4 separate regions of the Homo sapiens genome follow, and regions 2, 3 and 4 are each reported to be linked to region 1. Evidence: microRNA targets listed by miRTarBase, many of them from high-throughput screens and not tested one by one. Region 1 holds a microRNA gene; each other region holds the end of a gene's coding sequence.
The links. The annotated mature microRNA hsa-miR-1273h-3p reads CUGCAGACUCGACCUCCCAGGC and lies in region 1 at 1,142-1,163, shown strand. An mRNA with a match to its seed (bases 2 to 7 or 8) in the 3' UTR can be bound and repressed. Matches are read on the target gene's strand: a 7mer-m8 pairs with bases 2 to 8, a 7mer-A1 pairs with bases 2 to 7 and ends in A, and an 8mer does both.

Region 2: miRTarBase lists TSC22D2 as a target of hsa-miR-1273h-3p. Seed matches in the 3' UTR shown: 7mer-m8 at 3,484-3,490.
Region 3: the mRNA of NFYB is a reported target of hsa-miR-1273h-3p. Seed matches in the 3' UTR shown: 7mer-A1 at 1,475-1,481.
Region 4: the mRNA of RAB8B is a reported target of hsa-miR-1273h-3p. Seed matches in the 3' UTR shown: 8mer at 2,396-2,403 and 7mer-A1 at 3,681-3,687.

What each region holds. Positions count from the first base shown.
Region 1 is chr16:24,202,045-24,206,112 of GRCh38, forward strand. It overlaps MIR1273H (microRNA 1273h), which reads left to right and starts at 1,072; the gene lies at 1,072-1,187. All of the region lies in intron 16 of PRKCB (protein kinase C beta), which reads left to right.
Region 2 is chr3:150,458,307-150,462,374 of GRCh38, reverse strand. TSC22D2 (TSC22 domain family member 2) reads right to left here. Exons shown (of 3, transcript NM_001303264.2): 3 at 1-3,999. The coding sequence ends at 3,739. Among named protein-coding and RNA genes, the nearest start is that of TSC22D2, 52 kb to the right of the region's middle.
Region 3 is chr12:104,116,085-104,120,152 of GRCh38, reverse strand. It overlaps NFYB (nuclear transcription factor Y subunit beta), which reads left to right. Exons shown (of 8, transcript NM_006166.4): 8 at 384-3,067. The coding sequence ends at 416. Among named protein-coding and RNA genes, the nearest start is that of NFYB, 20 kb to the left of the region's middle. RefSeq lists an enhancer at 3,392-3,561.
Region 4 is chr15:63,263,306-63,267,373 of GRCh38, forward strand. It overlaps RAB8B (RAB8B, member RAS oncogene family), which reads left to right. Exons shown (of 8, transcript NM_016530.3): 8 at 222-4,068. The coding sequence ends at 314. Among named protein-coding and RNA genes, the nearest start is that of APH1B, 12 kb to the right of the region's middle.

The DNA of each region.
Region 1 (4,068 bases):
AAAAAAGAAAAAAAGAAAAATAAAGCCACTGTCACTAGAAGAAAAGACAATGCCTGCTGGCTGGGCAAAAACAGCAGCTGTCCTTTCTGACTCTATCCTGGCCTTCTCCTTTGTGCATAAACCTGCTATGTCTTTTTCATGTTAAAAATCCCCTACCTCAAACCTGGGAATCCTCCTTACTACTACTCTTACTACTGCTATGATTACTACCCTACCTTACTTTGCATACAAACACACTTTTGAAAGAGTTGCCAGTTCCTGCTATTTCCACTTGATGACAATTTATTGTTTCCTCAGTTTGGTGCAATCTGGCTTCTGCTCCCGCCATCCTATTGATATTTTTCTCATTGAGTCATCAATGACCTGAAAACTGCCTCTTCTCATAAGCTTGTCTCATCTTTCTTGACCTCACCATATTATTAGGTGCTCTAATCCTTTCTCCTTTAAAAAAATGTGAAAAAATAAAATATTCAAGCAGCATCAGAAGCTACAAAGTGAAATTAAGATTCCCCTCACCCATGGCTCCTAGCTAGGCTTCCTGGTTCTCCTTCCCAGAGACACCCATTGCAACCAGGTTCTTGTGTGACCTTCTAGAGAAGATGTGTTCAGGCCCAGAAATAGTCTACATCACACACAAGGATGTTAGCATGCTGTGTACAATTTCTGTATCTTGCATTATTCCCCTCTGTCTTGGAGATTGTTTCTTATCTGCTTATCTAACTCTACATCACCCTTTGAATAACTTCCTAGTTTCCTATATAAGTGAGTTTATCTGTAGGAAAAGTTCAGAGTGCCTTCTTTCTTTTTAAGCCCCTCTTCTCCTTCATTTTTATGACATTGTGTGTCTGTCTTAGTCTGTTTTGTGCTGCTATAAGAATACCTGAAACTGGGGCCTGGTGCAGTGGCTCATGCCTGTAATTCCAGCACTTTGGGAGGTTAACATGGGCAGATCACTTGAGCTTGAGCCCAGGAGTTTGAGACCAGCTTGGGGAACATGGCAAAATCTGTCTTTACACACACAAAAATTACAAAAATCAACCAGGTGGGGTGGCACATGCCTGTAGTCCCAGCTACTTGGGTGACTAAGGCAGGATTGCTTGAGCCTGGGAGGTCAAGGCTGCAGTGTCGTGGTCACAGCTTGCTGCAGACTCGACCTCCCAGGCTTAAGCAATCCTCCTGCTCGAGTGACAGAGTGAGACCCTGTCTCAAAAAAAAAAAAGTGGATAACTTACAATGAAAAGAAATTTATTTGGCTCATGGTTCTGGAGGGTGGGAAGTACAAGATCAGGGGCTGTATCTGGGGAGGACCTTCTTGCTGCATAGTAACCTGATAGAAGGCATCACATGGCAAGAGAACACATGAGGGAGGGTAACTTACTTTTTAAATAAATTCACTCCCACAATAATAACATCAATCCAGTCACCTCCAAAAGTTCCCACCTCTCAACACTGTTGCATTGGGGATTAAGTGTCCAGCACAAGAACTTTGGGAGAACACATTCAAACCATATCACCACATTTGCTGATGTTCTTCCTACCTTCACAGCCACTCCCAATAGAAATTCCAACTCCACAAAGACTTCCAGTGACAGTTGAATTTGGAGGGTTGAGACCAGCTCATGACCCAGAAAGGAAAACAGAAAGCTTACTTTTTGTTTTGTTACAAGTGCAGTCTCTTAAAAATAACCACAAAATGCCCCCCCAAATGGCATATGGAAAACAGCACAGAGATGGTGTGTTAATCTACCTGAAATGTCTTTCTAAGGAAGTGAGGCTTGGATGGGAACGGAAATGCATCCCTTTTTCTTCCCAGGGTACACGTCTTTTTCTCACTTCCTCTAACTGGGAGCCCCAGGGCCTGGCTTTGTCTTGTAGCTTCCTGCCGTGATGCACCAGGCTAAGTGGGAAGGTTTCTGTTCTATGTCTAAAGTAGCACTGGCAGGTCCTCATTCTGCTTGTAATTGGGATGGGAATATGGGTAGGAATTTAGGGTTTGGCAGAGCGTACAGGACCTCTTTCAAGCCAGAGCACAGCCCTGTCAGACTTACTCACTGGACATGAATGGGTCAGTCAGCCCTCAGCAGTAACCACCAGCTACCATGTTAAGTATTTGATGTGAATTTTATCAAGTCATTCTCGCCACACCCTACAAGAAACTTGAGCTTAGGGGACTTAGCTAACTTGCTTGAAGGTTGTATAGCTGGGAATTGTTGGAGCCAGGATTGGTACCCAGGTTAGCTTAACTTTTAAGTCCGTGCCACACAATCAGATACATAGTATGAGGCAATGGGATGTAATGGAAAGCCCATGGGCTTTGGAATTGAACAGATGGGCTCTGGATCTTGGCTCTCCTACTTGACCCTATATGACCCTGAACAAACTGTTAACTCTTAAAATTATCTGTTAAGTAGAGATAATCCTTTTCCTGCCTATCTCACAGCCTTGTGGGAATCAAAGCTATAAAAAGATAGGCAAATAGAAGGGATAATTACTATTTGAGGGTGAGTTTACTTGAAGCCAACAATGTGGGTTTAGGATGAATGGTGAAGAATAGATAAGAAAAAAAATGATATTCTGTTGACATGGGAAGATGTTTAGAGTGTATTTCATCTAGTTTCTTTTAAAAAGCAAGCAAAAGAACAGAGTCATGATTCCACCTTTGTCTAAAAACTAAAAAACATCCATTCATCTATTCATCCAGCCATCTAGGATACAAACCAAGATGTTAACATAATACAGAGATTTGGGGTGGCGGGATTAAGAAGGATTCTTTTGTGTGTTTTAAAATTTTTTATGGCCAGGCACAGAGGCTCATGCCTGTAATCCTAGCACTTTGGGAGGCCAAGGCGTGCAGATCACGAGGTCAGGAGTTCGAGACCAGCCTAGCCAACATAGTGAAACCCCGTCTCTACTAAAAATACAAAAATTAGCTGGGCATGGTGATGGGTGCCTGTAGTCCCAGCTACTTGGGAGGCTGAGGCAGGAGAATCGCTTGAACCCGGGAGGTGGAGGTTGCAGTGAGCCGAGATCGTGCCACTGCACACCAGCCTGGGCGACAAAGTGAGACTTCATCTCAAAAAAAAAATTATTATTATAATTCCTTTTTTTTTTTTTTTTTTTTTTAGAGACAGGGTCTTACTCTGTTACCCAGGCTGAAGTGAAGTGGAACAGTCATAGCTCACTGCAGCCTCCAGTTCCTGGGCTCAAGGGATTCCCCGTGCCTCAGCCTCTTGAACAGCTGGGACCACAGGCATGCACCACCATGCCTGGCCAATTTTTAAAAAATTCTTTGTAGAGACAGGTTCTCTCTATGTTGCCCAGGCTGGTCTCAAACTCCTGATCTCAAGTGATCCTTCCACCTGGGCCTCCCAAAGTGCTGGTATTATAGGCATGGCACCACCATGCCTGGCATCTTGGTGCTTTTTAATAGCTTGTTTGTTTCTGCGATAAATGTAGGAGACTGATAGAAGAGTCTGGATCTCTTGTCAAATCTAGGATCAAATCGTGGTCAGATACTTAAACTAAACCCATTTTCTCATTGCACAGCAAGGACTTCATAGAGCTTTTGGGGGGATTAAAGGAGGTAAAGCTTGCAAAACACTTAACACAGTATCTGGCTCATAGTTAGTGCTTAACATACACTATTATTTGTCCATTTGATTTTTTTTCATCCCTGGGTTCTAGAAACGCAGTGGTGAATAAAACAGATGTGATTTTGCTCTCATGTGGCTTACAGTCTAGATGAGAACATAGACAATCAACAGAGAATGAACATGTATTAATAATTATAGACTGAGATATACCAGATTTTATTTCTGTTAAAGAAATGAACAGGATATCTTGACAGAGAATAACAGGAGGGAAGAATGAGAATCCTCTTTATTTGAAGGTGGTCTGGAACAGCTTCTCTGACAGGGTGCCATTTAAACTGAGATCTGGAGGAAATCAAAACACTGGATGTTATTTTTTAATGAAAATTAAGAAAAGCAAGAGCAAAACAAAACAGACTTAGTATCAAACACAAAAGACCCCTCTCCTACTGACTTCCTCCCTAAATAAACATAAGAG
Region 2 (4,068 bases), not on the chromosome of region 1:
CCCATTGCTTAAAACCATTCAATAAATCATTCTTGCTTTCTGAATAGATGCCAAAATACTAGGTCAGTGGGGAAGTCACTGCCTGCCTGTCTCCAATGCAATTCTGTGGCTGCCCTAGGAGCCTTGTTTATACTTTTAAGCCATTGAGTTCTCTTTTCTTGTGCTTGGAACACCCTTCCCTCTGGCTCTTATGACCTTCAAGACTCAGGTGTCATGTTTTTGAGGAAACCTACCCTGACAAAACCATCCCTGACTGTACATAGTAACAAGTATTCCTCACTGCATTATCAGTTGGCTTATTATGTCCTCAAATTGTCAATTTTGAGGGCTGGGTTTTGTCCTTTTCATAGGATTATTAAAGAAATGTCACAAAGTGCTTGCCACTGAGCCATAAAGCTTCTTTTAAAAATGTGACTTCAAATCTTAAAAATTGTTTCCAGACAATTAGCTATTTCTGGTTCTGCAAAGATAAATTTTCAAGAACAGAGATATTCTGGTTCTATTAAGACTTTTTTTTTTTTTAAAAAAAGGTCCATGAATTACTGGAGTTTGCAACTTGGAGAAATATAATCATTCACCTGTGAAAATTCTTGTGAATAATGGCAGCTGTGATCCCCAGTCACTGGAGGCTTGATTATAAAACGTTATCTCAATACTTCTAATTAGCATAGGATATTATAAATAGAATTGGAAAAATTCAGCTATTTTGGACAATCAGGAGTTAAGGAAACTGTTTATTTAATGCCTCCTAACCCCTACTATTTGTTTTTGGTGTGGCAAGCTGTGAGATCACATCGGAACAAACTAAATTTTATTTGGGGAAAGTTAGGTTTGAATTGTAGACAATTACCGTATCAGAAAAATTTCTACTTATGATTTACCGGCTAAATTAAAACAGAAAAGCTTATGTGGGACCTTGCTCTATGGGCATTACACTGACAGAATTAGATAGATGGCATTCCTGTAAGACTGTGCCTCCAAATTGGGATCTCAATCAGTTAATATTTACAACTATTTGGAGCAGGAGACTAAATCTCCAAAGCTGAATTGGAAGTTACTTAAGATCCTAAACAATCAGCTGGGGGAAGGGTTGACAGTAGGGATAGTTTGGATTTTGAGGGGAGGGGATGATGGGAAAGCAGAGGGCAGACACCACAATAATTCTGCATTTTTGAACAATGGACCATGAGTTGAGTATCTTCTCCTGTCGTTACACTGGAAAGCTTATTATTTAAGGCTCTAGATACATACTGCCAAATTACTTTCTAAAAGTACACAGGAAAGCCTGTCTTTCTTTCTATGTTAAGTCCTGCTACTTAGGACACTTATTACAATTCGCCAAAAACATTAATTTGCATTTCTTAGGTTACTAGAGGTTGAACCTTTAGAAACTGCCATTTATCTCTTCTGTGAACTACCCATATTTTCTCTCCTTTTCTACTGTTTTTCTTAATATAAAAGTAGTAATAACTGCTGTTACCATTTTAAACCTTATTATTCATTTCCTTGGAGACTATTACTTTGTTTATGAAGTGTTTTTCCAGCCCCAGAATCAAAATGGAATCTATTTTCACAAAAATCCCATTTCTAAGACTAGTTTTTCTCCACCTGTATTAAATATCACATGTCACAGTTAGCACTGGAGGGGCACAGCCAGCAAACCTTTTCGGTTAACAGTCCAACAGTGAAGTTTCACATTCCATTAAGTATCTCACCTGTAGCAGCTCTACTTGGAATCTTACTACACATCCTTAGGGTTGCTTACTCAAGCCTATGTACTTAGTTCCTTGATTTATAATGTTATTCATTAACATTTTGTTCAATGTCTTGCAGCACAACTAGAATAGAAAATATTTGGCAATCTCATGTACATCCCAATTTTATGCCTTGTTTGTTTGTGGCTAATCTGATTAAATTTTTACTTCAAATAAGTCTTTTAACACGGAGAACTAACTACTGGTTCTCATTAACTCTGATTAGCTAGCTGGCTACAGATGCAGTGCATGTTAATTTCTACAGGCACCTTTCTGAATTCAAGTAAAAGTTTTGGTAGACAAGGATTTCCTACTTAAGTATCACTAACATAATATGAATATTGAGTACAAATATTGCTCACTATTTTTGCATTCTTTAAATTGTTTTACTTTGAAAATTTAAGAACTATCAGTAAGTCATTATTAACAGGTCTTTAAGGAGTATTTTGAACTGTGAAAATACAAATCTAGTCAAATTTTGAACACATATAGAGCCAAATATTTCAACAAAACTGCAGTTTAATTTCAGAAAATGTTAAAATATATATTTATACATCAATTTCTGACATACACTTAATGTGTTAGTATACACAAAATGATGCTTTCTTTTGAAACTGTATTTATGAAATGTACATTTTAATTTAAATACTCAGTATACACTGCACTTAATCTGCATGTTGCATTTATTAAATACATTAAAATCTGCAATGTAACAAAACGTTTTCTGCATACGAAATTCAAAACACCATTTTAAATGAACAAAAGATGGCTCACTTTTTTTTTTTTTTTTTTTTACAACTAGTGTATTGTACACTAGCTCAGCTCCACCAAACTACCTGTTCGTTCTCTTTTATTTGACATTGTTCACAGACTAGTACATATTACAATAAGAGTGCTGGATAAAAACATGAGGTACGAAAGTGGTTCAAAGATTATAGGTCATGCAGATCATGCTAGACAGTAAAGAAAATTGTGACTGAGAAAACACTAAATAAAAATACATAAAGAATGTGCATTATAAAAAAAAAAAAAGACAAAAAAAAAAAAACAACAAAAAAAAACCAAACTCCATTACACAGCTTTGCTTCTTTGGTTACAAAGTAGGTTGAACAATTTCACAGCTTTTTATTCCCACCCGAAAAAAAAGTCATACGAAATGTTGAAAAGCAGAGGAATCGTGGCAATTTCTCTTAGAAAGTAGAAACAAATGAACAAAGTTTTCTTCATCAAAATAGCCCAATTATTTATCATATCACAATAACTGGTGACTACCTGTACAGTTGCACTATGTTCTTCATACTTACACTATACAAAATTTACATTCAAGCTGGGTCTTTACTACTGAAAATAAATACCATAAGTAAATTGCCATTAGTGTTAGAAATATGCCAGGATTCTTTTGTTCAATTATTGCCTAAACGTTTTATCTATTAAATGCAATCCTGTCTTTCACTTCCTTTACTGATACTTATAATTATTCAAAAAAATTAAAAAAGTTCTGTGACATTGTTCATGTACATTATGAAAATAGCAGCCCTGTAATAAATAAAACACAAATAAATGAAAACTTATGTAGGCAAATGTTACTGAATCAGAAAGAAAAGTGGCTCTTTAGATGAACTGTTATTTATAATGTGATAGGAAGGCTCAGGGTAAATCCATGGGTAATAGGAAACATGGGAGAGCCACCAAAACTCTTAAAGACCCCACTCATGCGCACCAGGTAAAATGCAGACTTTGCTCGCTTTAATAAACCCCATCTATTATTCTCCTTGTGTACTGATGACATAGAACTGGACATCAACAGCGCTGCATGACATCTCAGAGAGAGGAAAAGCTCTTGTAGAATGATTGTCTAATACTGAAAAGGCCAAACACACAACCAAAGCATGGCTACTTGCTTTCGTATAAAGTGGAAAGAACACCAGTGGCACACAAGGATAGATTGCTTTCAGTTTTTTTCTTAATGAGGCTTAAGAAAGCTTTATGCTGAGGAGACATTCGGCTGCTGTGGAGGTTGCGTTGGCTGCGGAGGCTGTGCTATCACTGCTTGCTGTTGAGAAGTGCTACCAGGATTGGCCTGTTGGGTTGGGAGTTGGGATAATTGATCATTGCTTGAAAGAGATTTTAACAGTGCATTTTCTCGTTCAAGTAAAGAGTTTCTTTCAACTAATTCTTTTATTTGTTCCTTTAAAACTTCCACTTCTTCTCTTACTGCATACATCAAATGGCTTTTCACCAGATCCTGTGAAAAACAAAATTAGGAATGTCAAAAGAGTGAAAAGATAAAGGTGGTGCTATCTGGTTCTGGCCT
Region 3 (4,068 bases), not on the chromosome of region 1:
ACCCTGGAGGTGGAGGTTGCAGTGAGCTGAGATCACACCACTGCACTCCAGCCTGGGCAATAGAGTGAGACTCTGTCTCAAAAAAAAAATTTTTTTTTTATTATATCTATTGATATAGTTAATTTCAACATGCTATTAAGGACCTGATAAAGAAGGTTATTAAAATTGTGTTTTCTCAATGTAGATAACAGTATATAGTGTTCTCTTAATAGTTAAAAATAAGCATATGTTCATATTTGCATAGGAGATTTCTAGAAAGATACACAAGAAATGGGAATTAGACTTGTTATTGTCTTTTTATTCACTGAATTTTTATAATATGCATATGGTACTTTTAATCTCCTTTTCTTTAATTCTGCTCAATTTAAATTTTCTAATCTTAGATTTCTGGTGTTCAGCAAATTCAGTTTTCATGATCTGAAGAAATGATGGAATGGGGAGTGTAGAGAAATGAGAGTCTGTATGATTCTGGAACAGAGACATCAGAAGGAAAGACTGGTGAAAAGATGTATCTTTGTATATTAATAGCTGTAATGTAGCTTCCTGATGCTTGACTAATTGAGGTGTTAATTCTGACTTGAGAATCTTTTTCATGAATGATTTTAAAGAAAAATTTGGATTTTAAAGGTATTAAAATATTTTTGTTTTGTACGAGAGTTTGTTGCTCTGTATGACTCCTGTATGCATTGTATATTGCAATTTATTACTGTCAGAGATTTGTAGACAGTTTCTTATTTTCATATTGAATCATGTTACTTTTGTAATTCAAGTAAGCGGCTGGGTTAATTCATGATGTTTGCCCTTTTAATAAAATATAAGGGTAGAGTTCATTTTGAATGCAAGTTGCCTTTATTATAAATTTGAGTTTGTCTTGGTTATACCTTGCATGATAACCTAGCTAGATTTCTAGCATTTGCTGTATTTATTAAAATTATTATTTTTTTGGTAAAACATTAATAGTTTAAGCAGCATCATTTTTTTAAAAAATGTAATTGAATAAGTGTGAATGCAGAAGCAAATATTGTCTGCCCTGTTAAACTTGGTGCCCATTAACAGTGTTTACACTGTTCATCGTGCCTGTTAATGTAGTTTTAGTTACTGGAGCTTTTTTAAGACTAGATTTGGTTTTGAGTTACATTTTTAAGAATGTGGGAATATATTTAAGTTTAATGTAGTCCTAGTGCTCTTGAAATGGTGCCCCTTTCATTTGGTACATGATTTTTTTTCAAATCATATCTTCAAGTACTATAGTATTCTCTTACAGAAGAGGAGTTTTATAGTCTGATGGTAAATGTCTTCATTTTACCTTTTTAATTGAAATGTCAAGTTTCCTGTTACACTATGGAAACCAAGAAACATCAGACATCATTGCGTGTACAGACCTTTTGCATGGGTGAGTGGATGAAATGGAGAACAGAGTGAGTGCTGTGAACGGTGTGAAATAGAAGCCAACTTCTAGTATGCTGTCTTCATCTCTGCAATAAACTAAACGTAAATAATGTAACTTTGTATAATTTAGTAGTATGTACTTGGATTGTTTCTTTTTGAAAAGTGAGGATTTGTATTTTCTCATCTATTCTTTTTGGTGTTAATTAACTTGAGGGATTTCTTTTTTAAGTTTTTAATATCAAAAATTGCTATTGTATAGTTTGCCTAAAAGGAAGTTGGAGTGAATATCATCTTTGAAGGACACTCAAATTTATAAGGTAGAAGCAATTTCCCAGATATAGGCTGAACAGAAACATTTACTTTGCCAGAAGGAGCCTTTAGGAGTATATGTGGGCTAATCAGAGGTTAATAATGTCCTCATCTCCTACTCTCCATTTAAAAAACAAACTTCATTGTAGTAAATTCAAATAGGAAAAAATGGGGGAGTAGTTAAGCAAAATCAACAGTCATCCTACTATGTTGAAAGAACCAATGTTAATATTTTGATAAATATCATTTGTCCTTTTACTTTGCTAAATATGTATATTTTTATAAAAATGGGCTCATATTGTGCATACCATTTTGTAACCTGCTTTTTTCACTTAACAATATATTGGGAACATCTTTTCCAGGTCATGCATAGTCTTCTGCATCATTTTTATTGGTTTATTATTCTGCTGTATGACTCAATCATAATTCATTTAATCTTCTATTGGATATTTTGACTATTTACATCTTTTCACAGTTATAAACAGCACTTCACTGAATCCCATGTACATCCATGACTGTTTTCTTAAATTCTTTGAATTGCTGGGTTACCAAATATGCAAAATTTTAAGGCTTTTGATACTTCGTTATGAGTGTATTTTTGAGATATTTTCCACTTGATCCAAGCAGTGTGTCACTATATAACTGATAAAAGCACTTGGTCTTTGATTATCAGATACTGTCTCTAAAATTATTTTAAAGATTAATATTTGTTCAAGTAGAGAATGAAGATAAAAAAGGAATTTGAGGCCAGGTATGGGGTGTCTCATGCCTATAATTCCAGCACTTTGGGAGGCCAAGGCAGGCAGATCACTTTGAGGTCAGGAGTTTGAGACCAGCCTGGCCAACATGGAGAACCCCCCGTCTCTACAAAAAATACAAAATTAGCAGGGTGTGGTGGTGCACACCTGTAGTCCCTTACTCCCTGGTGGCTGAGGCATTATCCCTTGAACCTGGGAGGCAGAGCCTAAAGTGAGCCGAGATCGCGCCACTGCACTCCAGCCTGGGTGACACAGCAAGACTCTTGTCTCAAACAAACAGGAATTTGAGTAAATTTTAAATTAGTATATACTACAACAAATTTCCAAACTTCATAATTTGCTAGTAGTGCTAACTAAAATTTTACACCAGGTAAAATCAGGTCACCTTTTTTATGTATTGACTTCATTGTTGGACTTCATACTCTGATGGGAAAGAAAATGGACATTCTGAATGTGTCAGGTGCATAATATCCTAATTTATGCTTGTCAGAGCTGGGGTCTCTGTCTTCCTTGGCCCATGTTGCATTTAACTGAATGTCATGTTTTCTCCTCTGGAACTTCTTATGTATGCAAGCTCCCATGTTAACCTATCATAAAAATGTTTTTTATAATTTTGTAAACATTGCTTTCTTGAGTATCTAAGAGAGAAATGGGTTTCCGTGAGTGAGTTCCAGGTAGTAGAAGGGGACTTAGGTAGCTTCTATCTTAGATAGCTTCTATCTATCCCCTCACTACCTCACTCTAACGGAGATGCTTTAAAATCCTCTTGAGTCCAATGAGGATTGTTTTTTAAATGCTGCCTTCCAAATGTCACATACTTAGATATGACAGTGTTTGAAGCTATTTGTATTTTTTTTCCCCTCCTACACTGTATTATGTGTGCAGTGTTTTCCTTTCTTCAAAAACATGCCTTATTGCCTGTTTTCTGGGTTGTCTTAGTGAGTTAAAGGAGTACCAATTAACTTTAATAATTCTAATTGAATATAGTTATGAGGGCCCAATTAAAAGGACTTCTACAGCAGTAGAAATTAGGCATGAAAAGTGGAAAGAATAGTTTCTCCCATTTGCTAAGAATGAAATCTTGCAATGCAAGATTTTTAAAAAATATTTTCTCTTAAGGAAAATTGTTATTTTATCAACAATATAAACAAGATGATGTTTGTTGCTTTATGTGATAAAATACACTTTAAGTCATTCAAATAAGTAATAATTAGGCAGCTTCTTAGAGGGCTTCAAAAGAAAGTGATACTGGGTGAAATCTATTTTACTAGTCTATTTTAAATGTATTTTTTGGTTTCCCTGAATTAGGCAGCTGATAAATTAATTTACATAAGTTAATAATTTGTATATATTGACCTTAAACTCCTATTAAGTCATATAATGTGCTTGTGAGTTAAAAAATGGAACTCTAACTTTGTTTTTTAAGGAACTATACTACACTGCCTGAAAAATATTCAGTTTTAATTTATGTTTTCTTTTAGAGCTAGAAATGTTACTTCACCAAGTTTAGCTCTCTCTTGACTGGGGAGCTCCAGTCACCCCTGATCTCGTCTAGGCTCCTTATGCCAAGTTCTTTGCCTCCCCCACCCACCTGCCATGACCTTAAACACAT
Region 4 (4,068 bases), not on the chromosome of region 1:
CTATCGTAAGGGCATTTTCCTCTTTTCAATTCACCATTTCCAAAGAAAAAGACAACATTGGTGCTTAACTAGTTCCCGTTCTAATAAAATACTCTAGTGAATACACATTTCACTAGAATACACATTTCACATGGTATGGTTAGTTATTTTTATTTTTTAGGTAACTGAGGTCAAACCATGAAACTTTTATTTCCTTGGTAACTTCATCTTCTATTTTTTAGAATGACAGCAATTCAGCAGGAGCAGGTGGACCAGTGAAAATAACAGAAAACCGATCAAAGAAGACCAGTTTCTTTCGTTGCTCGCTACTTTGATGAACTCTTTCTGAGAGACTGCAGCACACCTAGAGGGCCCTTTCCTGCTTCTCTGAAAGCACAGGTCACCCAGCCTCAGAATCACACCTCCCGGCTGCTGCTGAGAGCACCACTGAACTTAGACCTCTCAACACAGTATGCCAAGTGGATTCCAGCCTCATGGCCTAGCAAAAGAACAGACTCCCTTTTTCAAACATGGAAGCAATGAAGTGGAGACACATGCAGGACCTAACTCGTTTTTTCCTTGTTTTATTACCTGTTGCAGAAGCGGTTATCTTTCTTTTTTACTTTGCACATCAGTGTTAGCCTTTCCCTATTTCAGCACAATCTTAGACTCATATTTGCACACTTTTGTGTCGTGAAGTTCTAGACAAATTTGTACATGTGGCAATGTTAAAAGAGCATTTACAGCAGAGGTTAATATACTAAAATTAAAGGGTATTTGGTCTGGTTCATATGGTCAAATATTACTGCCTTGGTAGCATTTATTTAAGGGCTTTTTCTTAAATAAGAATCATTAAAGTCATTAAAAAAATTTACTGAAATGCCCATCTTGTCATCAAAGGCCACAATTTCTTTATTTCTTCAGATTAAGAGCTTTGCCTCATCCCCGACCTGTTTTCCAGAGTCTGGGTAGCTGAATGAATCACTTTAAAATGATTACCTCTGCCTAATCTATAGAAACTGCATTTGGAAATCACCATAATCTCATTTTTCCCTGGGGTTTGTATTTGCTATTCTTTCCCATGTTTGACTTAAGTGTAATCACTCTTAAGTAATATTTGAACATTATTATCTGTTTCTATTTGTGAACTTCTTGAGCTGAAATTTTACGTGGGCTGAGAGATATACCATTTAGGGTTTTAGTGCAGCATCTAACTGTGATTCTGTCAATAAGGATATGTAATATATTTTTTCTTAGGTTCACTCCTTAGCTGGCTGGTTTAGTTGTAATACCAAATTCCTACCATAATCCCTGTCTACAAAAGTTAGGTTTAGATTTTAGTTTGCGGAAACCTTCCCTATATAGAGACAGATTAACTTGTTGATATAAATTTAATAGAGCTAGCTCTTGGTAATGGTGAAAATAATGAGTTTTGGTTGGTTTTATTTGGCAGATGTTTTTAGAAATAAAAGTACTTAGACCTAGTGCAGCCTCTAGGAAAAGTCTTGCCTTTTCATTAGAGAAAACAGGACCAAGGTTTCAGTTTTCAAACAGCTGTTGTTGATTGTGTAGAACCCAGTTCCATCTGTTTTGGTTCATTGTTACAGAACTTAGTCCAGTCATTTGGGCTAAAGCCAACCAAAAGCTTAGTTGCCTTTCTCAACAAACACTGGTACTGGTATACTTTTGTAGATGAAACCATCACAAGGTATTTAGTGTTAACTTGTGTGCCAAATTCAGATCACTATGTCGTTGTTGCTCTAGCCTTCAGTGTCATAACACAGGGGGGATAAAACAGAGGGGATGAGGGAAATGAATTCTGTTAATAATTATTCTTCCTGGTATGCCTGTTTTGCTTCACAAAGGCTACTATCATGCTGGATAGATAAGAACAGGAGATGGCAGTGGAAAGGGATTGCTTGTTACCACAGAGAATTCTCTTCAAATTAAGATATGTCATTAGAATGCTTGGACCAGTCAATCTTTTGTACTTATTTGAAAATATAGGAACAATTTAGCAGCTGCAAATATGCCCAAGCTATTTTTAATAGATATACTAAACTTATTGTTGACAAATTTCAGCCTCCTTAATTTTTTTTTTTTTGGTAATTACCTATAGGCTTAAAAGTCATTCGTTGCTGTTCTAGTATAATTAGTAGTTCCGTGATTGAAAGTTTATTGTAATTCTACTATCTTCAAATTAGATACATTTTCAAAAGGAAAAGATAATTTTTTAGAAACATCTTAATATTCACTATTTCCTGAAAAAATCCAAGCAGTTAACGCTTTCTGGATGGTAACAAAGTACCTTCTAAAAGATAAGTGCTATGACACCATGTATGAATGTAATTCTCTTAGTAATTTACCTCTGACTATTTGGTGTCTTAACGCTTTGGTTTATATAATCTCAGGGGTTGTCTGCAAACCAAAACTGACATATTCTGTGGTTAGCTTTTATTACTTTTTTTTTTAACAGAATGCTTTGCTTTGGTTATATTTCTTCTTTCTTCTTTTGTCTTATATGGATTAATAACTAGTCTCCATGAACTTCACTTGAAAGAGCCTGTAAAAGTTAGATGAGTCTAAAAGTGCTCTTTGAAGTAGCAGCAAATTGGGAGTATATGCTCTGTTATATAGAAATAAATTGTCCTTGCTATTTTCTTACATTTAGCTTTGCTAGATTGTATATACATTGAGCTAAGACCTTAGGAAATTCACTTTCTGCATGATAAAATGACCCAATAAATATTCCACTTTGCTTAATAATGTACATACAGTGCATTATTTTTTCTATTTGTAGATGAATTTAATGACAGATAATTGTCTGTTCCCCGCTGAAACTGAAGAAATCTAGTTTTTTTGTGAACATTTTTGTGGTCTTATGGATAAGGTACATGAAGATTTTTGCAGCAGTATTAGTGGTTCAGTGGCTGCACTTTATTAATCAGTGTGTTAATTTTTGACAGTGATTGGACTAGACCTTTTCAAATAGAGTCTGAGGGTATCAGACAGTGAAAATGTGCTGTAACTAAGTAGCATGTAAATCAGTTGATTGTAAAACGTTTCGCTGGGAACTTATTTTAGCTATATTTTACTTCAGACAGATTATGATACAATAATCTACCTGTGCATCAGTTAGTAGGTGCTGCAGGGTTTCTTACTATTTACAGAAACATTTTGTGCAGTCTTTGTTATAAATTTTCAGAAGACTATACTCTTTACTTTGAAGGTCTATTTTTTAATTATACCTCATTTAGCTAACTAGTATTCTAATACCTGGTAGAAAAACAGTGAGCCAGCCTTTAAGCATCTAACAAAATTTAGACTCTTTGTTTTGTTTTGAACTGAAGACATCATTGGGAAAGGTAGGAAATATTAGTTTAGGATAGAGCATACATGTCATATCCAGTAGCATAAAAAAAGTATTATCTCCCTGTCTCCATTAATAAATTTAGCTGTGCAATATAGGTGCGTTTTTGCAGAAGTTTCTAGTAAGAGATTATAACTCCATTTTACAGGTTCTGAATGCTCAGAGTCTATATTAAGGCTTATAAAGTTTTTCCTGTGATCAGTAAGTGACACATTTAAGCAGACATTCTTTTCAAGTTCATGACTTAGATTCCTTTACAAATTTAGTTCTCAATCTTTAAAAACCACATTTCATTATGTTGGTTAATTATTATAAATTTTAAGCACTCATTTCTGCAATCAGGTTTCTCAGAATTTTTTTTTTTTAAACAGAAGAGACATTCCTTTTTCCTTGTTACATCCAAGGGGGGCACAGGGGTGGGTGGAAAGGAATGTCTAAAAATGAAATCCCTTGATATAGAGGGACCTAGACGGACAGGATATGCTAAAATAATTTCAAATTCTAGCACAATTTTAGAGTAGAATAAGTCATTTTTTTAGACTAATAAAATTAATGGCTGTCATGTTCACTCTGAAAAAAATCTAAATGACTGAAATGTACAGAAATAAAAATTAGCAAACAATTATTCTAGGGATATTTTCAGATTTTACTTCATTTCTTGAAATGCGTGTGCCATATGCAATTGCATTTCTTGTGCCAAGAAACTAATAGAACTTATT